Homo sapiens: one gene and its partners. The protein of the gene in region 2 purifies or fractionates together with the protein of the main gene of each other region. This does not show direct contact. Each region holds a gene or a part of one and is shown on either strand. Other genes may lie near its edges. The genes, in order: EFNB3, TBC1D22A, FDXR and ACSL4.

Evidence for each region.
Region 1: the proteins of TBC1D22A (region 2) and EFNB3 purify together in Homo sapiens (affinity purification with mass spectrometry; 3 studies listed by BioGRID and IntAct, with this or other methods). This does not show direct contact.
Region 3: the proteins of TBC1D22A (region 2) and FDXR purify together in Homo sapiens (affinity purification with mass spectrometry; 3 studies listed by BioGRID and IntAct, with this or other methods). This does not show direct contact.
Region 4: the proteins of TBC1D22A (region 2) and ACSL4 purify together in Homo sapiens (affinity purification with mass spectrometry; 3 studies listed by BioGRID and IntAct, with this or other methods). This does not show direct contact.

What each region holds. Positions count from the first base shown.
Region 1 is NC_000017.11:7,708,202-7,711,912, forward strand, and holds the end of EFNB3 (ephrin-B3 precursor), read left to right. Parts: coding exon 1-49; intron 50-233; coding exon 234-326; intron 327-433; coding exon 434-538; intron 539-965; coding exon 966-1,375; 3' UTR 1,376-3,171; downstream 3,172-3,711. UniProt on the Homo sapiens protein: Cell surface transmembrane ligand for Eph receptors, a family of receptor tyrosine kinases which are crucial for migration, repulsion and adhesion during neuronal, vascular and epithelial development.
Region 2 is NC_000022.11:47,171,611-47,176,194, reverse strand, and holds the end of TBC1D22A (TBC1 domain family member 22A), read right to left. Parts: intron 2,698-4,584; coding exon 2,569-2,697; 3' UTR 502-2,568; downstream 1-501. UniProt on the Homo sapiens protein: May act as a GTPase-activating protein for Rab family protein(s).
Region 3 is NC_000017.11:74,869,955-74,877,474, reverse strand, and holds the start of FDXR (NADPH:adrenodoxin oxidoreductase, mitochondrial isoform 1 precursor), read left to right. Parts: upstream 1-4,480; 5' UTR 4,481-4,530; coding exon 4,531-4,609; exon of another isoform or gene 4,610-4,706; intron 4,707-5,158; coding exon of another isoform or gene 5,159-5,277; intron 5,278-5,341; coding exon 5,342-5,439; intron 5,440-7,520. UniProt on the Homo sapiens protein: Serves as the first electron transfer protein in all the mitochondrial P450 systems including cholesterol side chain cleavage in all steroidogenic tissues, steroid 11-beta hydroxylation in the adrenal cortex, 25-OH-vitamin D3-24 hydroxylation in the kidney, and sterol C-27 hydroxylation in the liver.
Region 4 is NC_000023.11:109,723,219-109,730,258, reverse strand, and holds part of ACSL4 (long-chain-fatty-acid--CoA ligase 4), read left to right. Parts: intron 1-7,040. UniProt on the Homo sapiens protein: Catalyzes the conversion of long-chain fatty acids to their active form acyl-CoA for both synthesis of cellular lipids, and degradation via beta-oxidation. Preferentially activates arachidonate and eicosapentaenoate as substrates.

The DNA of each region.
Region 1 (3,711 bases), on a different chromosome or scaffold from region 2:
AATCTCTGGGGCCACGAGTTCCGCTCGCACCACGATTACTACATCATTGGTACTGCTGGGCAGAGGGCACGATTGAGTGGGGGGCTCCTGATACTGAGCAGAGAGGGAGGGGGACCCCTGCAGCCAAGAGGGAGATCCCAGTGCCCTCAGGCAGTGTTCACACCAGGGTGTGGGGCCAGAATCAGGGCTAGATTCTGGAGTGCCAACCTCTTCCTCTGGCTTTTCTCTCCCAGCCACATCGGATGGGACCCGGGAGGGCCTGGAGAGCCTGCAGGGAGGTGTGTGCCTAACCAGAGGCATGAAGGTGCTTCTCCGAGTGGGACAAAGTGAGTGGGGCTGGGGGACACCTCCTGGGCACGAAGGGACGTTGGGGCAGTACGATCATGGTTGGGGCAGTTGTCTCAGCCCCTCTCTGGGTCTTCCTCATCTCCAGGTCCCCGAGGAGGGGCTGTCCCCCGAAAACCTGTGTCTGAAATGCCCATGGAAAGAGACCGAGGGGCAGCCCACAGCCTGGAGCCTGGGAAGGAGAACCTGCCAGGTAGGAACCAGGGGCTAGGCCCCTGCCTTCCCCAGCTTCCTCTGCTCTCAGACCCCAGCTGCCCTGCCGTCACCCTCCCTCCCTCTTCAGTTTTGGGGGCGGTGATACAGGAAAGAGGAGAAGAGAGGATGGGAGGGTGGGAGGGGAATGGAAACCAAATGAGGAAAAGACTCAATTAGAACTAATTAGCCAAGTCAGTGCTTCAATCAGTGCTGTCAGAGAAGTGGGGAGGACTCCGTGGCAGGAAGCTGAAGGGCTGGACACCTGGATTCTGAGCAGAGTTCGGAGGGGGAGGAGAGATGGGGTCCCCAAGGGGCCTGGGCGCTACAAGGGAAGCCCATGGGGACCCCCAGGGTTGGGTGTCCAGGTGCCCAGGTGGCTCCTTCAGTCCCTCCCCCTCTTTCCTCCTTCACCCCTTCCCTGCCAGGTGACCCCACCAGCAATGCAACCTCCCGGGGTGCTGAAGGCCCCCTGCCCCCTCCCAGCATGCCTGCAGTGGCTGGGGCAGCAGGGGGGCTGGCGCTGCTCTTGCTGGGCGTGGCAGGGGCTGGGGGTGCCATGTGTTGGCGGAGACGGCGGGCCAAGCCTTCGGAGAGTCGCCACCCTGGTCCTGGCTCCTTCGGGAGGGGAGGGTCTCTGGGCCTGGGGGGTGGAGGTGGGATGGGACCTCGGGAGGCTGAGCCTGGGGAGCTAGGGATAGCTCTGCGGGGTGGCGGGGCTGCAGATCCCCCCTTCTGCCCCCACTATGAGAAGGTGAGTGGTGACTATGGGCATCCTGTGTATATCGTGCAGGATGGGCCCCCCCAGAGCCCTCCAAACATCTACTACAAGGTATGAGGGCTCCTCTCACGTGGCTATCCTGAATCCAGCCCTTCTTGGGGTGCTCCTCCAGTTTAATTCCTGGTTTGAGGGACACCTCTAACATCTCGGCCCCCTGTGCCCCCCCAGCCCCTTCACTCCTCCCGGCTGCTGTCCTCGTCTCCACTTTTAGGATTCCTTAGGATTCCCACTGCCCCACTTCCTGCCCTCCCGTTTGGCCATGGGTGCCCCCCTCTGTCTCAGTGTCCCTGGATCCTTTTTCCTTGGGGAGGGGCACAGGCTCAGCCTCCTCTCTGACCATGACCCAGGCATCCTTGTCCCCCTCACCCACCCAGAGCTAGGGGCGGGAACAGCCCACCTTTTGGTTGGCACCGCCTTCTTTCTGCCTCTCACTGGTTTTCTCTTCTCTATCTCTTATTCTTTCCCTCTCTTCCGTCTCTAGGTCTGTTCTTCTTCCCTAGCATCCTCCTCCCCACATCTCCTTTCACCCTCTTGGCTTCTTATCCTGTGCCTCTCCCATCTCCTGGGTGGGGGCATCAAAGCATTTCTCCCCTTAGCTTTCAGCCCCCCTTCTGACCTCTCATACCAACCACTCCCCTCAGTCTGCCAAAAATGGGGGCCTTATGGGGAAGGCTCTGACACTCCACCCCAGCTCAGGCCATGGGCAGCAGGGCTCCATTCTCTGGCCTGGCCCAGGCCTCTACATACTTACTCCAGCCATTTGGGGTGGTTGGGTCATGACAGCTACCATGAGAAGAAGTGTCCCGTTTTGTCCAGTGGCCAATAGCAAGATATGAACCGGTCGGGACATGTATGGACTTGGTCTGATGCTGAATGGGCCACTTGGGACCGGAAGTGACTTGCTCCAGACAAGAGGTGACCAGGCCCGGACAGAAATGGCCTGGGAAGTAGCAGAAGCAGTGCAGCAGGAACTGGAAGTGCCTTCATCCAGGACAGGAAGTAGCACTTCTGAAACAGGAAGTGGTCTGGCTGGAACTCCAAGTGGCTTAGTCTGGGGGATCAGGAGGTGGGAGGTGGATGGTTCTTATTCTGTGGAGAAGAAGGGCGGGAAGAACTTCCTTTCAGGAGGAAGCTGGAACTTACTGACTGTAAGAGGTTAGAGGTGGACCGAGAAGGACTTTTCCCAGTCTTCAGTGGCACTTCCCAAGATCTCCCTTCCCTTGTGCTCTGTGCTGATTTTAGGACAGCTAAGATGACTGCCATGTGCTGTGGCAGGCCTAATTTGTCTTGTTCTTTCCTTTCCATATCCCAGTATAATCTCTGTTAATCAACAGGACTACCCCAAGAACCCATGTGCTCTCCCGAGTAACCCAGATGGCTGTCTTGTTCATTCCATCCTACATTTCTGACTCCTTTCAGACTCAACACAGTTCCCTTCTTAGTGACCAAAATGGTGGCCTACTGGCTGGTCTAGCTGACAGTGGTACTTAGCAAAGGCCACTGTTTCCATAGTGACCAGCTGATACCTCTTCCTGCCCTCTAGTGTGCAATTGGGTGTTGCCTCAGTTTCCTCCCAGCTCAGTTTTATTAGATCAAAGCTGTTGTTGGGCACCAGGTTGGCCACCTCAATCACCAGCCAAGATGGTTGCTTTGTCCACCAGAGGTCAAGTTCACCTCTCTGGTGCTGTAGTTCCCAGCTCCTTCCTGATTTTTCTAATCGCTCCTTCTGGGGAACAGGAAGTTGATATTGCCATGGTGGCGGGGTATGCCGTCACCTCAGTAGTTTTACTGTAAAAGGGAAATTTGAACAACAAAAACCAAAAAAAATAAAAATAAAAAACTTCAAAAGTTGACAAGAAGGCTGGAGAATGACTGGACTTGAATTGGGACAAAGGCTTGGTTAGAATGGCTTTCAGCTGAGGGTTGGATTGCATGAAACCAACCAAGGGGGGTGGGTAGGGATAGGGCTAGTTTGGAGTGGTGAGGTTGGCAGTGCTTGGGGAGGCGAAAATGGGCTGGGCGAGAAGGCAGAGGAAGGTGTCACCTCTAGGGGAGGGAGAGAGTAATGCAGGCAGGAGTGGGGTCGCCAATTCATCCATGGGGACAGTCTGAGTGTCTTGCTAAGCCAAAGCACCAGAGACAGGGTAAGACGCAATTAGGATCAAAGTGGTAAAAACATGTTCACATGTTAAAGTCTATTCCCTACCATCCCTACCCAAGGCACTTGAGAAGTTTTGCTGTTGGGGACTCATGGGGAGAAGGGATGTGGCTGATCAGAAGGAAGTAGGAAGGACTCAGGGAGGGACCCAGGCATCAAGCTGCGTGTGCCCTGGCTCCCTGTATACCCATAACCGAGGCTCTTCTCCCCCAAAAAGCCCAGGTGCCCAGTCCCC
Region 2 (4,584 bases):
CTGAGAAACTGAGGCCCTTTGAAGGGCCTTGCTTCAGTAACACAGGGCAAGGAGGGTGTTTCAGTGTGTGGGTGAGGGTGAGGCAAGTGTATCCCAGGAGAGGCGGGGGGGACCCCAGACCCTGGTGCCTACCCCGGAACAGCCCTTTTCAAAGCAGGTGCTTGACAGATGTGGCCCAAGGGGAGGTCCCTTGTTCAGGAGCCTGACAGGGGCCAGCCTGGACCCCACACTCCCGTGTTCCAGCTAGTGCAGAGCCGGGCTTCGGGGGTCAGACTGGTTTCTGAGTCTTGCCCCGCCCGGGCAAGTGGCATCCCTGCACCACCTGAGCAGCTGCAGCCCCATCTCCCTGAGAGGTCCTGCGGGGGGCAGCGAGATCACGGGTGCTGCCGGGCCCACGCTGGTGCGCCGCAATGGCCCTGAGCTCAGACCCTCGGCAGGGCTGGGCCAGGGTGCCCCTGTCCTCGATGGGCAAGTCCTCGAATCACAGGCCAAGGCCGCGGCTTTGTCACTGATCTTTATTCCGTGTTTTTAGCGCACCACATCCAGACAGCACACCCCGAACATTCCAGATGGATCTGCTCAGACTTAAGGCCCGCGGCCAACACCTCTCACATTCAGTCTTGGCGTTTACATACATGAGGAAATGCACACAGGGCTGAACTCCGTGGAGCTTCCTGTTTAAAACATCAACCACCTCGAGAAGCAGGTCAGTTGTGTCCGCAGCCTTCTGGCCACACGGCATGATCTGAGCTGGAGAAGGGGATCCTCCCAGGGCTGATCTCGGCAAAGCGACATGGGGCTTCCTGCACACGGCCGAGGGGCGGCTCTTCTTGTGACGGAATCCCCTCCCCATCTAGAAAAGGAGGCGGCAGGAGGAGGAGGCATGGCTGGTCTGAGGAACCCTTGACCCTGGGGTGGGGACACGGAAGGCAGGGGTAAGGCGTGCCCGCATCTGATGTGAAGCAAGCCCATCCCTTTGCTGGTTTGGGAGCATCTGACGTTTGCACAGCATTTTGTGCTAATTTCCATGCTGTGTGTAATGACCCTGGATTTTTAAAACAGAAGCAGAAACACACACATCACTTATGCCTGTATGTCCCACAGTCTCTGGCAGTGTCCTAGGGCCTGGGAGAGGACACGGCTGCTCCTGAGGGACAGAGGAGAGTCTGGGAAGTCAGTCACCAGTGGGTCGCTGAGGACGTGAGCCTGTCCTGGGCTCAGGGATCAGACAGACTGTGGCTGTGGCCCTGCCCGCATTCCAGGGGTCATGCAGCCTGTGACACACCGAGGGAACGCTGGGAAGCCAGTCCCAAGGCCCCTGGAGCCAAGGACACAGCCCTAGCAGGGCGCTGGGCAGGGACCAGCTCTGGGCCCTTCCGCACTTAGAGCCCCAAGGAACCAGTCCACAGCGGGAACCAGTCCAGGGCAGAACCAGTATACAGCGGGAACTGGTCCACGGCGGGAACCAGTCCACGGCAGAACCGGTCCAGGGCAGGAGTGGTCCAGGGCAGGAGTGGTCCATGGCGGAACCGGTCCATGGCGGAACCGGTCCACGGAGGAACCGGTCCATGGAGGAACCGGTCCATGATGGAACCAGTCACACCTCCCCTACACCTGGCAGACCTGGACAAGGACAGCAAGTCCCAGGAAGTCTCCAAAAGCTCATTCCGCTTCCAGGCTGCGGTGAGAAGAGCACTGTGGTTCAGGGCTTTGATGACAGGGACGCGACCCCCTGCCCGTCTGCCAGCCCAACATGGCCCGACAGCCTGGGTGGGCCTCCAGGGGCTCTGGCTGAGGCCGGCGCCTACCTGCGTGGCGGGGCCACTTGGCCCTGGACCTCAGGGAGGTGGGGGTTTCTCTCTTGTAAAAGAGGTTCAAGGTGGAAAGTAAGGCGATGGCGAGGCCTCCCTCTGCTCCCAGCCTTTGGTCCCACGGCCTCCCAGGCACTCGGCGGGCTCACGGCTTGGACTCCAGCCTTCAGCTTCCCAGCCACGTTTAAACCAAGCAAGCAGGAAAACACACGGAGGGAAAGGGCCAGCAGCAGTGAAATACAGCTGTGAGGGGACCTCGCGGCACAGAGACCCCGGGTCAGCGCAACGTCTCGGTCTAGATTTTGTCTACATTTTATTCTTTCACTCAACAGAATAGAAGTTTTGCATTTCAGAGTAGGTATGAGATGGCCACTACCTCGTTCCGGCCCTGGCACCCAGACAGCAGGACTCCAAAGAGGGTCGGCCTCCTAGGCTGCCCCGGACTAGGGGCAGCACGAGGCAGTCATTTGGCAAGGACATTGCAGGGAGAGGGAGAGGGGACCCCTGACCTGCCTCTGGCCGCCGAACCCGGGGCCCTCCCCTGGCTCTCTTTGGTATCTCAGAAAACAAAGGCTGTCCCTGTCTTTGTCAGCCCTAGACCAGGTCTGTGGCCCATCTTCACCAGCTCCCCTGGAGGGTGGGGCCACCTCACAAGGCCTTTTAGCAGCCCGGGACCAGCTCACAGGGGCCTACCACCAGCCAGGCAGGTGGGGCGCGCCACCCGGGACAGTGAGGCCAGCTGCGGGTGGGCCTGGGCTCATTTCTTGTAGTGATTGGGGGCGTCGGCAAAAGCAAACTTGAGGCGGTAGGCCTCGGCCAGCAACAGGCTGATGTCCTCATCATCCCAGTGGGCTGTGGGCAGGTTCTGGAGGAAGAGCAGCAGCTCCTGGGGAGAAAGAGACAAGCCCAGGTCAGAGGAGGTGACCCACGGTGGAGGGCGGGTGACCCCAGAAAACTGGAGGGAAAGATACAAGCCCAGGTCAGAGGAGGTGACCCACGGTGCAGGGCGGGTGATCCAGGAAAACTGGAGAGAAAGACACAAGCCCAGGTCAGAGGAGGTGACCCACAGTGGAGGGTGGGTGACCCAGGAAAACTTGCCCAGCCGGCAGCTGCTCCCTGCTCAACCCCAGAAGGGCCCCAGGCCTCGCCCCACGGCCACCGCCCCATCCCAGCAGCCAGGCAGGAGGCCCACTGCGCAGCTCCAAGTCCGGCATCTGAGATGTCGTGGCAGGGGCCGCCCAGAGCTTCATTTAACTGAATCCCCTGCCCCTCAGGGGGAGACCCAGCTCTCGGGGCCCTGCTGCAGCTTTGCAGCCTCCGCCCAGGAGCTTCCCACTCCCACAAAGCCTGTATCAGCCCAGGAAGTACCGCAGCACCCCTGGAACTGCCACTAAGCACAGATTTCTGTGCACCAGGAGACCCCTCCGGGCACCAGCACCATCAGCAGATGAAGCCCACACGAGGGGATCACAGAACGGAGCCGGCTCAGGCCCACCCCGGGAGCCCAGGAGCACAGCAAAGCGCCAACTGGCCCCTCCTGCATGACCACCTCACACCAGTGGGTTGGGGTGCAGGGCTCCACCAAACCCAGCTTCAGGTCTAGGTCCAACCTGGTGCCCTGGAACAATGACTCCACCCCGAGGCCCAGCTTCCTCCTCTGCAAAATGGGGCCACCATTTATTTATTTATTGCTTTCTAATGTGCTTATTTGCCTTAGACTGAGATTTAAAAATTAATTCCAGTTACAACCAAAGAAGGCCTTTCTGTGGAAGTGACATTTGATCAGACTCTTAAAATTCAGGTAGGATTCTCATAGGTAAAGATAGGAGGTAAAAGGTTTTACATAAAGGTGAATGACATGCATGTAAGTAGGAAAATAGGGAACTATAGGGAATAAGCAACAATTATAAGTCGTTCAGTGTGGATAAAATCATCTTACATGTGTATTTTTAAAATCTCGCCTCCTGTACCCTTCATTCTCCCATTCTACTTCCCAGTCACAGCATTTATTGCATTGAATTCACATAGTACAAATTTTTATTTACTGTAGTAAATTACTGTCAGGGCTGCTGGACAGACTGGGAAAACACACATACGGCCAGCAGTACAGCCAGCACTGGGTGGGCACACAGTGGGCTCCATGGGCATGCTAGGTAGACACACCAGGCTCACTGAGCGGGCACACTGGGTGGACACACAAGGCTCACTGGGCATGCTGGGTGGGAACACCGGGCGGGCACACCGGACTCACTGGGCTCACTGGGCACTCTGGGTGAGCACACAGCTCACTGGGAGTGCTGGGTAGGCTCACTGGGAGTGCTGGGTAGGCTCACTGGGAGTGCTGGGTAGGCTCACTGGGAGTGCTGGGTAGGCACACTGGGCTCACCGGGCGCACTGGGCAGGTGCGTTGGGCTTACTGGGAGTGCTGGGTGGGCTCCTCTGGCCTGCAGCTGGGCCGTGTCTCAGATGGGCTATGGGGGCACTGAGTCCCACCCCCAAAAGACACATGGGCGACTGTCTCCAGAGCTCATGGTCTGGAGGCCGGGATGCGGACACTGAGGAGATGGAGACTGACCTACGTCCACTGAGGCCACAACGGGGAAGGAAAAGCACAGGTCCTCGGGGGACCCCCCACGACCACCGCCTGACAGCCCCGCCCTCCCACATGACCACGCCCACATCCACAGCTGCTGGCAGCCCACCAAGGGCAGGGCAGGTCTCCGGGGACCCCAACACACAGAGGGCTTGGCAGAAGTAGGGATCAGAGAGGGCT
Region 3 (7,520 bases), on a different chromosome or scaffold from region 2:
GTAGTCCCAGCTACTTGGCAGGCTGAGGCAGAAGAATCACCTGAACCCGGGAGGTGGAGGTTGCAGTGAGCCAAGATTGCACCATTGCATTCCAGCCTGGGTGACAGAGCGAGACTCCATCTCAAAAAAATAAAAAAATAAAAAATAAGACTCCCGTTCAAAAAAAAAAAAAAGAATAAATAACTTTGAATGTGACCTTGGCTAGTTCAAACAGTTTGTTCTGTGATGTTTAGAAGTGAACCTGGGGATCATCTACTGGGAGAGAGAAGAATTTGTAGGAGGGGGCTGGGGCTGGAGGGGGTACTGGGAACAGGGTCCGGAGGACGGATGACCTCAGAGAGGAATGGGAGGAGGGTGGGGTGCAGATAGAAGAGCCTGAAGTCAGGGCTGGGCAGGGCTGTGGAAGGATGGTCTGCAGCCTGGGAGTGAGGTGGGAATATAAGGGAACTACCAATGCCAGGCAGAGGAAGAGACCAAGGTGCTGGGGGACACCACTGAGATTCAGCCCACAGTGGGTAGTATTGAGAGAGGGCTGGGAGCTGCCCCAGCTGGGGGCTGGACTGGGAGGGTGCTAGGAAGTGCCCAGGTGGAGGCTGAGGGAGAGACAGAGAAGGAGGCCAGACCCATTAGTTGAAAACAGGGTCTCTCACCTTGGCACTATTGACTTTTTTTTTTATGGAGATGGAGTCTCGCTCTGTCGCCCAGGCTGGAGTGCAGTGGCATGATCTCAGCTCACTGCAACTTCTGCCTCCCAGGTTCAAGCGATTCTCCTGCTTCAGCCTCCCGAGTAGCTGGGACTACAGGAGCCTGCCACCATGCCTGGCTAATTTTTTGTATTTTAGTAGAGACGGAGTTTCACCATGTTGCCCAAGCTGGTCTCGAACTCCTGAGCCCAGGCAATCCACCCACCTTGGCCTCCCAAAGTGCTAGGATTACAGGTGTGAGCCACCATGCCCAGTCACTACTGACATTTTATCTGGCCAATTCTGTGTTGTTGGGGGCTGTCCTGTGCATTGTTGGATGTTTAGCAGCGTCACTGGCTTCTACCTACTAGATGCTGGGAGCTCAAGTTGTGACAATCAAAAATGTCTCCAGACATTGCTGAGTTGACCCAGTTGAGAACATGCAAGTCATTCTCTGAGCGTGTAATTGCCTTGTTTTTCAGTGAAGGCCTTGGATAGAGTGAAAGGCCTCCTGACCCTGCTGATAGGGAGACAAACTGCCGGCAAATGGGAGCCTGGGGGATGGGCAGAGGGGTCTGGCTACAGGCACAGGCATTCCCTGAGCCTTGTTCCGTTGGAGAGCCCCTCTGTGGTGTGGCCTTAGGCAGCTGCACAGAGGCCACTGGTTCTTTTATGTGCACTCTCCATTCATCTCCACCACACCTTCCTTTACCAAAGACCGCAGTTCCTTTAGACACCCTTTTCCATAGCTACAGACTCTCACTAGTTCTGAAACAGCTCCCTCCAGGCTTGCGGTGGTAGTGGTTTCCAGCTGTTGCTAGCCTGGGGTGCTTCTCCATTCCCTTCACCCTGCTCACACCTCTGTATACAAACTCCTTCATTAAACTGTCCTCAATCACGCCTTTTGAGTGTGCCATCTGTTTCTTGCTAGAAGGTTGACTGATAGAGTGGAGTTTTGGATCCAGGCAGCCCTCTTGGCACGAGGCAGGCTTGGCGGCTCCCCAGCCCACTGCTTTGCTATATGTTATTGCTGCTCCTTGGAAATGCATTAGCAGCTTAGAAATGGCCTTGAGATCTAGGGGTGTAATTAATCAAACTGCTAATTCTCCATTTGAGAAACGCAGTGGCAGAAAAGGCCCCAGTTGCACAGTCCTGGCTCATGATTAAAACCATCCAAATACATAACCAATGACTCATTGTTATTGATCTGGACCTGACTGGGGTATGGGCAGCAGCTGAAGGCACTGGTGCCAGATCTGGCTGTACCATGGGTATCATGGGAACAAGTCACTCGATTGCTTTGAGGCTCCATTTTCTGTTTCACTTAGGATGTGGGCTGGGAATTTCTGAGGCCTGAGAGGTGAGGGAGGTGACAGGAGTGAATGAAGTATATCCAGATCTCTGCAGAGACTTAAGGTCTAATCTACAGAGACATATGGGAGGTCATAATACATATGGATGATGATAATAATAGCTAATGTTTATCTAGCATTTATGGAAGTTGTCTTGACCTCATCATCTGATTTTAATGTCTACAACAAATTGCCACTATTCATATTTCCCCCAAATGTTACAGACAGTGAAAAAAAGTCCTGGAGAGATTAAATTTCTCAATGTCATATAGCTAGTAAGTGGAGGAAGAGGGATTCAGACCCAATGTTGTCTGACTCTAGAATCCATCCTCCACCACCAGATATACTGCCTCTAGATGGGGAGCCCTACAGAACTTTTTCGATTGTACGAACTTCCATTATGTGCTAGCCAGTGTGTGAAGCCCTGGGGGTATAAGAGCTGAGACTGGGTCCCCATCCTCATGGAGCTTATAATGTAGTGCAGGGGTGGTCAAACTCTGTAAAGGACCAGATAGTAAATATCTGGGGCTTTGCGAACCATATGATCTCTGTTACAACTACTCAATTGTGCCATCAAAGCACAAATATAGCCATAGACAATATGTAAAGAAGTAAGCATGGATGTCTTCCAATAAAGTTTTATTCAAACTGAAGTCTGAATTTCATGTAATTTTTACGTGTCACAAAATGTTGTTTTTTACCATTAAAAATATAAAAACAAGCTGGGTGTGGTGGCTCACTCCTGTAATCCTGGCACTTTGGAAGGCCGAGGTGGGAGGATCGCTTTGAGTTCAGGAGTTCGAGACCAGCCTGGGTGACATGGCAAAACCCCATCTCCACAAAAAATGCAAAAATGAACCAGGCGTGGTGGCAGGCACCTGTGGTCCCAGCTACTCCGGAGGCTGAGGCCTGAGGCTCGCTTGAGCCAAGCCAGGAAGCAGAGGTTGCAGTGAGCACCACTGCACTCCAGCCTGGGTGACAGAGCAGGACCCTGTCTCAAAAAACAAAATCAAAACCAAAAACAAAAACCCCAAAACCTCCAAAAAAACAAAAACAGTAAAAGCCATTCTTGTTGGTCATCCAAAACATGCTGGTGGACAGTATTTGGCCTGCAAGCTATAGTTTGCCTACTCCTGGTCTAGTGGGACAGGCATAAAACACAGTGACCTATTAGAAAGCAGACAGCATTTACTTACCAGTGGGAGGGAGGGGAAGTGACCAGTAAGGGCACAGAGGACTCCTGGGATACTGGCCATGTTTTATTTCTTGATCTGGGTGGTGGTTATATGGTTACACCTTGTGATATATTGTCAAGTTGTACACTCATGATTTGTGCACTTTTCTGTATGTTATTATTGAATTTAAAATCTCATTAAAAACGACAACCAGTGTAGTAAGTCATGATGGGATAAGGTCAGATGCTGTGGAATGAGAGGCCTTTAACTCCTTGGAACTTGGGAGGGGACGGGTCAGAGAAAAGGCTTCTCCAAGGAAGTAATATTTGACAAGAGGGCCCATGGGGAAAAGGAAGAGGGGTTAGGCTTATTGGGTCAGCTGTGACTACGGATCCTGTCCTTATTTTTAAAAACATTTTGATCATAGACTTTTTGCATTACTTTTGACCTTTTAAAACGTTGCAGTATTATATTTATCTTGATTACTGAGTGTTTTGGAGCCCCCTTAAATTCTGAACCCGAGGGGAGTACCTCAACTCTGGTCCCGGCTCGGCTGCACGGGGGTCGGACGCTCTGTCCTTAGTACCATACGTAAGCCACTGCCCCGCCCCGCTTTTCTTCACCTATGTAATGGGAAAGGAGGTGAGGTGGGACGAGCTTTCCAGGGTTTAATATTCTCCCTGGCCCGGCAAAGACGGGGATTTGAGGGGTTACATCGGCACAACACCCGGGGTCGAAGAAGGAGGCTGCTGGGCTCCGGGAAGGAGCTCCCTCGCCCCAGACTTCCGCACTCTGGTTATTTCCCAACGGCGGGAAGGCTCGCTTGGAGCCGGACTCGTGATTGGCTAGGACGAAGTCACGTGGGAGGATTCGCAATCAAATGGCAAGGGCGTCTGCGTCATCAGTGAGCGACGAGAGCCTCCCGAGAGGGGCGCGGCTAAGTAAAATAAGCTCCTTTCTTAGTGGCTGTTTCCTTGGGGAGGGACTGAAACAGCGATGGGGATTCGCTCTCTTCCAACCCTAGGCTTCCGGGATTTGGAGGGAAGGTGAGGCCTGGGGAGAAATGTATTAAATCGCGTATACCCCGGATGCTCCGAGGGGCGGGGCTTCGACGGTGGGGCGTAGTTAAGGGCGGGTCTCTCTTTTGGGGGCGGGATTCTCTCGGGAGTCGGGGTGGAGCCGCAAGGCTCCGCTTTCCCGGAGCGCAGGGGGCGGGGTTTGGGGCGGGGCCTCGCTTGTGGGCGGGCCCGGGCAGGAGCGGGCTTGCCCTGCGGAGCAGTAGCTAGGAACAGATCCACTTGCAGGTTGCTGCTCCCAGCCATGGCTTCGCGCTGCTGGCGCTGGTGGGGCTGGTCGGCGTGGCCTCGGACCCGGCTGCCTCCCGCCGGGAGCACCCCGAGTAGGAGCAGGGCGCCTTTGGGGCTGGATGGGAGCGCGGGGAGGCCTGCGAGCGCTGAGTAGGGGTCGGAGCAGAGCTGGGGCAGGGCTGGAGAAGGGTGAGACTGAAGGGGTGTCTTCCTGCTGGCGAGATCCCGGTGGTGTACGGGGGTGGGCGGAGATCTGTGCGTGAGATGTGAGGCTTCTAGGGTTAGAGACGGAGGTCAACAAAGGTGAAAAGGAGAGACTTTGAGATCTACAGGTGTGAGACGGGGTGAATGGAGGATGATACGGAGGTCTGTGGGGCGAGAGGAAAGTCTGAGTCGAAACAGGGATCTGTAGGAATAAGACGGGTCTATATGGGCAATATAGCGTTTTGTGGAGAGAGAGAGGGGTTAGAGGAGGGACACCGTGGGGAGACCCACGGGGGCGAGATTGGGATGATATGGAGGCCGTTGGAAGGATGTGGGATTCTAGCCGATTGGATAGGGAATGAAGTGTTGTTGGGCAGGCCATTGGCAGTGGTGTAGTAGGTTCATGGGTGAGATGTGGGCTCTGGATGAACCCACAGCCTTTGGGGGTTCAGATGAAGTAAGAGACCCTGCAAATGCCAAAGCCTTGAGGAACAAGAGAAGGAGGATGCAGGTGAGGGTGAAGCTTGGGAAGTTCCAGCTTCTGTTGGATATTCAGGTTGGTTTGGGACTGGGGAGAGAAGTTAATTTTGACCTTTTCCCTCTCCTCTGCCTGGCCCCAGGCTTCTGCCACCATTTCTCCACACAGGAGAAGACCCCCCAGATCTGTGTGGTGGGCAGTGGCCCAGCTGGCTTCTACACGGCCCAACACCTGCTAAAGGTAAGCCACTTACTCATAGTCCATCATTCACCTGCTGCTCCAGTCCTAAGGGCAAGCCTCACCCGCTTTGGGTTTTAAGAGCACTCCTGGTTGCCTTATGGGGAAGGGGCTCCCAGCCATCTGGCCTGGACACTTCCCACTTGCTTCCTCACCTACACCTGAGGCTCCCCTCCCCTCCCGTCCTCAGTGTGACAGGGGTGTAAAACGCACATTGGTGGTGAGTGGTCAGTGGCAGGTGGTCAGCTTTGCCTCCCTGGCCAAGCACTCCAGGGGGCTTATGTAGACCTGCAAAATGACTTTGTCCTCCTTCATCTTCCCTCCTCTCTCGTCTATCTTCACTCTATCCCAAACATCCTACATCTCGAGGCTACCCACCTCCTCCGCTTTCTGTAACTTTACCTGCCTTGCCATGCCCTCCTCACCCATAGCTCCAGTCCTCCGTGCCATTCTGTTCTTTCAGCCTGCCCTCTGCCCCTCCCCCTTCCCCTGTGAAGGCCAGGATCTCAAGGCTTTCAGTGTCTGCCTCGGCAGGAAGGGCCCCAAGCCAAGGCTACAGGTTCTACTTGAGACTCCACATCAGACTTTGGGACAGAGTAGAGAGGGGATACCCAGGTTAACTGAGACGTGAGACAGTTGCCTAGCTTTGGAGAGGCTTGGAGTGTCCGTGGAGAGACAAGAGAAAGGATGAATATCTTAATTATACACACACACACAGATGCTTGAAATGTAGGGTGACCAACTGGCCTGGACTGCCCAGGACAAGGGGCTTCAGCGCTAAGCTGGAAGTTCTTGGGAAACTGGGATGAGTTGATCACTCTGCTGAAAAGTGACCCGTGCATGCTTCCCAGGCAACACGGGTGAAAGAGCTAATTACAATAATGTGGGCAGCGTGAGCCGAGGCAGGTGGGGTCAATCAGAAACTGTTTCCTGGGCCGGAAGCCCAGGTGGCTCATGTCTGTAATCCCAGCACTTTGGGAGGCCAAGGCAGGTGGATCACTTGAAGTCAGGAGTTTGAGACCAGCCTGGCCAACGTGGTGAAACCCCATCTCTACTAAAAATAGAAAAATCAGCCACGTGTGGTGGCACAGGTCTGTAGTCCCAGGTACTTGGGAGGCTGAGTCGGGAGGATCGCTTGAACCCAGGAGGTGGAGGTAGCACTGAGCCAAGATCAAATCACTGTACTCCAGCCTGGGCGACAGAGTGAGACCCTGTCTCAAAAAAAAAAAAAAAAAAAAAAAGAGAGACAGTGCATTTGAGCTGCCTTGAAGCAGACCAAGGGCTTTGGTGAGGGCCTCCCACATGTGGGGAGTCATCCTGGAATGCAAGGCCTTGGGCACGCTGCCATGTGGGAGGGAGGACAGCCTGGGCTCTGGGATGGAGATCAGGGAGCACATGGGGGCTGGAGAGGCCCTGAAGGGCTTTGTATAAGGGACAGTTTTTTTTTAGCTGATCCTGACATTTTGGAAGGGAGGAGAGTAAGCTTTCCAGGCAGTGTTCTTTTTTTTTTTTTTTTTTTTTTGAGATGGAGTCTGGCTCTGTCGCCCAGGCTGGAGTGCAGTGGCACAGTCTCAGCTCACTTCAACCTCCATCTCCCAAGTTCAAGCGATTCTCCTGCCTCAGCCTCCTGAGTAACTGGGATTACAGGCGCACTCCACCACATGCAGCTAATTTTTGTATTTTTGGTTGAGACAGGGTTTCACCATGTTGATCAGGCTGGTTTTGAACTCCTGACCTCAAGTGATCTGCCCACCTCGGCCTCCCAAAGTCCTGGGATTACAGGCGTGAGCCCCCGCGCCCGGCCAGGCAGTGTTCTTAGCACGACTGTATTCAGCTGGCAGACACGTGCACATGCTTTCCTTGTGGAATGGGATGGGGAGGGGCTCAGGCCAGGTACAATCCTTGTTCTGATCCTTGGGCTGATCTTTGCCCACAGGGAGCTCCAAGCTACTGGCTGTGCTCCTAAGACAGGACCACATGCAGCACGTTTGGGACAGTGGCCCTTAGCTTGAGTCAGGCACTGAGCACAGCATCTCGTAGCATCCTCATGACAACCTGCAAAGCAGGTGTCGTGCCTCTTGCTT
Region 4 (7,040 bases), on a different chromosome or scaffold from region 2:
AGATAGTTGTAGATTCACATATAGTTGTAAGAAATAATACGCTTTATCTAATTTCCCCCAATAATAGCCTCATGCATAAGTATAGTGTAACATCACAACTACAAAATTGAAATCGATGCAATCCATCAACCTTACTCAGATTTCGTCACCTTTAATGCAGTCATTTGCATGTATGTATTTAGTTCTACATAATGTTATCACGTGTAGATTTATATAAGCACTACCACAGTCAAGATACAGAACAATTGCATCACCACAAGGATCCTTTTTGTTGTCTTTTTATAGATGTAGCCATCTCCCTTCATCCCTGACTCCTGGCAACCACTGATCTGTTTTTCATGTCTATAATTTTGTCATTTCAAAAATGCTTATATAAATGAATCACACAGTATATAACCTTTGGAGACTGACTTTACTTCACTCAGCATAATTCCTTGGAGATTAGTGCAAGGAATATACCTTTTATCAATGGCTTGTTCCTTTCCATTGCTGAGTAGTATTCCATAATATGGATTTACTGCAGTTTGTTTAACCAGTCACCTCTTGAAGGGCATCTGATGTTTCCAGGGTTTTTGTTTGTTTTACTTATTTATTTATTTATTTATTGCCTATTTTGAATAAAGCTCATATGAACAGTTGTCCACAGGATTTTGTGTGAACATAAATTTCTGAAATGCCTGAGAGTGTACTTCTTGGGTGGTATAGCACTTGCATGTTTAGTTTTCTAAGGAACTGCCAAACCATTTTCCAGAGTGGCTGTACCATTTTACATTCCCACCAGGAATGTGTGAATGCTCCTCATCCTTGACAGCATTTGGTGCTGTTACTATTTTTTATTTTAGCCATTCTCATAGGTGTGTAGTAATATATCCTCCTAGTTTTAATTTGCATTTTTCTGATCGCCAATGATGTTGATCATTTTTCCATGTGTTTATTTGCCATTCTCTGTATCTTCAGTGAAATATCAGTTCATGTCTTTTGTCCATTTTCTATTTGGATTTTTTTTTTAACCTGGTGAGTTTTAAGAGTTTTTTATTATTTTTTTGAGACGGAGTCTCGCTCTGTTGCCCAGGCTGGAGTGCAGTGGTGCAATCTCACTGCAAGCTCTGCCTCCCAGATTCACGCCATTCTCCTGCCTCAGCCTCCCAAGTATCTGGGACTACAGGCACCCGCCACCACACCTGGCTAATTTTTTTTTTTTTTTGTATTTTTAGTAGAGACAGGGTTTCACCGTGTTAGCCAGGGTGGTCTCGATCTCCTGACCTCATGATCCACCCGCCTCGGCCTCCCAAAGTGCTGGGATTACAGGCGTGAGCCACCGCCCCTGGCCTTTTTATTCTTAATACTAATCATTTGTCAGGTAGTGGTATGAAAATATGTTCTCCCAGTCTGTAGCTTGTCTTTCCAACCTCTTCACAGGGAATTTCACAGAGCAAAAGGCTTTAATTTGGATGAGGTCCAGTTTATTAATTTTTCCTCTATGGACTGTGCTTTTGGTGTCAAGAAATCTTACAAACTTTTGTTATTTAATTTGATTCCTTTCTGTTCTGTATAACATCCATTATTTCTGTAAGCTATTTGAGCATTTTCTCTTTCAACAATTTTAGAGCTCAAATATATTCTGTGAACAAGTGGCCTTAATGGCTTAGAATGTTAATACATATTCACACATGCTCTCACTATATTAAAATGGCTGCCTTAAAAATATAATGTCTACCTCACCAGGCTGTCAAATGCAACATTAAAATTTGTATTTTAAAATTAAATAGACGCATGATATGCTAAAGAGGTTTTTGGTTTCACTTTCTAAATTAAAAATATTTTGGCAAAACTGTATCATTTTCCATCAAGGATTTTGGTAAGTAATCCAAAAAACAAATTTGTGTTCTTATTTAAATGTACTTTGAAAGTCTACTTCTGCATTTTGAGTAGTGAAGTTATGATTCATGACCATGTATTTAGCAGACTTTTCTACTCACTGTTGATTATGAGAATAATGAATAAAAGATCATTGTATTTGACTGTCTAGACTGCATTTTTCCTTTTATAGCAGCTACATGACACTCATTGTAACTGTCTTTTGAAATAAATATTAGGTTCAAGGTGATGTTTACAGTTTTATATTTTGAAAAATGTATGTGCTCATATGAGAAGGAATTATAGGAAAAGGTTAGTGATTAATTTTGAGAATATTCATTTCTGTAAGGCAGTACTGAAATTATTTGTCCCTTCAGTGTTACTATATTTACTCAAATATGTGTGCAGTGAGGGAAGTAGATTGTTATTTGAAAAAGATAAAACATTGGTATAAGGCAGGGGCTGGCAAAATACTGCCTGTGGCCAAATCCTGCCCACCACCGGTTTTTGTAAATAAACTTCTCTTGGAATATAGCCACATCCATTAATTTATGTGTTTTCTGGCCGCATTCACAATACAACATCAGAGCTGAAACAGAGCCCTTATGTCCCGTGAAGCCAATTTTCTCTCTGGACCTTTACAGAAAAAGTGCTGACCCCAGAGATAAGGTAACCTTATAAATTGTTGATTACACACACACACACACACACACACACACACACACACACACACACACACACACAATTTAACAAACTACCCTGACTTTTTATACCTTCTGGTTACATTTCCAGGTGATATTGTGATTCAGGAGAGTGCATTCATTTTCTTTACTAAGTCTCCAAAGCACTGTGGTCTAGGAGCAGCAATAAGGAATGCATAGAGAGTTGAGACGGTTGATTTTGTTGTTAAGTGTGGGTTATTTAAATGTGAATGTGAATTTACATGTGTGGCAATCAGTAAGCTGCAGATAGACTTCTATGCAGTCTATGATGTCTTTTGGAGACCCTGTTGTGAGCTGTAGCGGTAATAAGAGAGCCAGGCATGGTAGTGTTTTTGCTCCTGAAACTGCTATGTGATCTTTAAGTACATAGTAGTAAGAGCCTATCAAACTGAGCTTAGACTGTTGGTTTATTATTTTGTTTGTACAACTTCCTTTTTTATAACGAAGCAGTTGACACTTTAGTTCTTTTAAGTGTTCTAAGTGTAATGTTGAAAATGGAAATTGAGTAAAGACAGGTGGCTGTGTATTTAGAAAGTAATAAGTCTCCATCTCTCATCATACACAAAAATAACTTAAGAATATATTTTAAAAATCTAAGTATATATTTTAAAAAATCTTCTGGAAAGTGTAAGACATCATAACCCAGTTAAAAAGACAAGTGATGGCCGGGCACTGCAGCTCACGCCTATAATCCCAGCACTTTGGGAGGCCAAGGTGGGAAGATTGCTTGAGCCCAGGAGTTTGAGACCAGCCTGGACAACATAGTGAGACCCTGTCTCTAAAAAAAAAACAAAAAAAACAAAACAACAACAACAACAACAAAAAACAACAAAAAAAGCCAGGCATGGTGGCATGTGCCTGTAGTCTTTGCTACTCCAGAGGCTGAAGTGGGAGGATCCCTTGAGCCTGGGAGGTCGAGGCTGCAGAGAGCTATGATTGCACCACTGCACTCTGGCCTGGGTGATAGAGCGAGACCCTGTCTCAAAAAATAAATAAATAAAATAAATAAAAATGAAAAAGCTTCTACATATGCATTAGAAGCTTTAATTGACCTCCACTTAATTGACTCACCACATTGAATAATTTTTATTTCCTTTGTAAAATACAGTGTACACTGAATACTTGGTATTAGTTGGTTGATCTCCAGTACTCCAGCGTGCTTGTTTACCTACCAGTACAGTAAATTTTTTTACTACTAAACCTGTATATGTTGGTTGTATTTGTTTTTTTGTTTGTTGGTTGGTTTGTTTGTTTTTGAGATGGAGTTTTGCTCTTGTTGCCCAGGCTGGAGTGCAATGGTGCAATCTCGGCTCACTGCAACCTCTGCCTCCTGGGTTCAAGCAATTCTCCTGCCTTAGCCTCCCGAGTAGCTGGGATTATAGGTGCCCACCACCATGCCTGGCTAATTTTTTTTGTATTTTTAGTAGAGACGGGGTTTTGCCATGTTGGCCAGGCTGGTCTTGAACTCCTGACCTCAGGTGATCCACTTGCCTCAGCCTCCCAGAATGCTGGGATTACAGGCGTGAGCCACCGTGCTAAGCCTGCTTGTATTTGTTTTTAAAAGGTAATTTGTTTAATATGTTGTAACCTGACAATATATGAGTGGGGGAGATTGGAGTTCTTTTTACTGAAAATTTACAAATGAAATAATATGATGTCTGGGATTTGCTTAACATTATACAAGGGGTGAGGGATGGAGGTGGGTTGTGGGTAGTATGGAAGAAACACAATTCAGCACATATGAATAACTGTTGAAGCTGGGTGATGGTTACATTAGATTCATTATGATGAAACAAATTGTTTTGAGAAGAGTTAATGAAAACAAGTTGCAAAAAAAAATACTGTCCGCTTAAATGTGGGTAAGATGACTATACAAGATACGTGGAAAAAATATAAAAATCTAAAAGAGTTTTATTTTATTTTATTTTATTTTATTTTTTGAGATGGAGTCTCGCTCTTTTGCCCAGGCTGGAGTGCAGTGGCGTGATCTCGGCTCACTGTAAGCTCCACCTCCCGGGTTCACGCCATTCTCCTGACTACAGGCGCCCTCCACCACACCTGGCTAATTTTTTTGTATTTTTAGTAGAGACAGGGTTTCACCGTGTTAGCCAGGATGGTCTCGATCTCCTGACCTCGTGATCCGCCCGCCTTGGCCTCCCAGAGTGCTGGGGTTATAGGTGTGAGCCACCGCACCAGCCATCTAAAAGGGTTTTATACTCACATTACTTGTCAAATGTAAAATCAATGGGCCTGGAGTTAGAGAAAAAGGTCTTGGCCTCTTGGCCCCATATAGAAAGTTTGAGGCTGGCATGGTGGCTCATGCTTGTAATCCCAACATTTTAGGGGGCCAAAGCAGGAGGATTGCTTGAAGCCAGTTCAAGACCAGCCTGAGCAACATAGCAAGACCCTGTCTCAAAAAAAAAAAAAAAAAATAGCTGGGTGTGGTGGCACACACCTGTAGTCCCCAGTCACTCAGGAGGCTGAGACAGGAGGATTGCTTGAGGCCAGGAGTTCAAGGTTGCAGTGAGTCATGATCACACCACTGCATTCCAACCTGGGAGACAGAGTGAGATCCTGTCTTTAAATAAAAAAACAAAACAAAACAAAAACAAAAAAAACCCCAGGTCAGGTACAGTGCGTCATGCCTGTAATCCCAGCACTTTGGAAGGCCAAGGCAGGCAGATCTCTTGAGGCCAGGAGTTTGAGACCAGCCTGGGCAACATGGTGAAACCCCATCTCTACAGAAAATTTTTATTATTATTATTATTGAGACGGAATCTCGCTCTGTCGCCCAGGCTGGAGTGCAGTGGCATGATCTCGGCTCACTACAACCTCCGTCTCACAGATTCAAGCGATTCTTCTGCCTCAGCCACCCGAGTAGCTGGGATTACAGGTGCCCACCACCACACCCGGCTAATTTTTGTATTTTTAGTAGAGATGAGGTTTCGCCATGTTGGCCAGGCTGGTCTCAAACTCCTGACCTCAAGTGATCTGCCTGCCTCAGCTTCCCAAAGTGCTGAGACTACAGGCGTGAGCCACCACGCCTAGCCCAAAAAATACAAAAATTTAGTTGGGCATGGTGCCATGTGCCTATGGTTCCAACTACTGGGGAAGCTGAGGTGGGAGGATTGCTTGAGCCCAGTAGGTGGAGGTTGTAGTGAACTATGATCACTCACGTCATTGCATTCCACCCTGGGTGACAGAGTGAGACCTTGTCTCAAAAAAACAAAAACAAAAATTAGCCAGGCATGGTGATGCACAACTGTAGTCCCAGATACTTGGGAGGCTGTGGCAGGAGGATAGCTTGTGCCCGGGAGGCAGAGGTTGCAGCGATCCAAGGTCACTCCACTGCATTCCAGCCTGGGCATCAGAGCAAAACCCTGTCTCAGAAACAAACAAAAAAACAAAAAAGCCCCCCAAAAATAAATAAACCAAAACCACACACACACAAAGTTTGTTGAATGAGTATATATATACCACTGATGAAAGGAAGGTGAAATGTTTGCCATACATATTTTTATGATCGTTTACCTGAAATTAACCTTTTAAATTACATAACCAATTGTTCTAAATCACATTAGATAAAAGGGTTTCTACTGCATAATATCCATAATATATAAAGAGCTCCTAAAGATCAATAAGAGAAAGGTACCCACTACAAAAAGCAAAAAGTGGCAGAAGATTATACATGGGCATTTCCCAGGAAAAGAAGTACTGGTGAATAAAAAAGAAAAGATGTTCAAATTGACTCTGGTTATTAGGGAAATGTAAACCGTTTTTCACCAGACAGATTGGCAAGAACTTAATATCCACTTTTAACAAATAGGCATTTGCATACACTGTTAATGAGAGTTCACATGTATAACTCTTTGCTGAAGAATACCAAAATCATCTCATTTTTAAATGTGCATACATTTTGACCCAATAGTTTTATTAGAAAACAATTCTAGGGAAATATTACATGTGTATAAAACTATGTATAAGGTTTCGCTGCAGTGAAACTGTTTGTAACTGTGAAAATTTGGCAGTATCCTAAATATCCATCAGTAGGGAATGATTTAAATAATGGTAAGTTATACTGTGGAATACCATTGAGTTATTAAATAAAAAAAGAAGAAAAGCCTCTTGGTTAGACATATATATACACTGACATAGGAGTTCCAAAGTATGCTGTTAAGCAGGGGAAGAGAGGGGGAGGGAGTCAAAGAACAGTTGTATACCATAATTCCACTTATCTAAAAATAAACCCTTATCATGTGTATGGGTAATACAAAACAATCTGATTGATACACATCAAGAGTAATTATCCCTAGAGGAAAAGAGAGTGGTGTTAGAGGAGGGCAGTATAGTTTTACTTTTTCTCTGTACAATTCTATATTATATATTATAATTTACAATTACAATTTTGATAGTAGGTATGCAGATTACTATTATAGCAAAATACAATTACTATTTTGATAG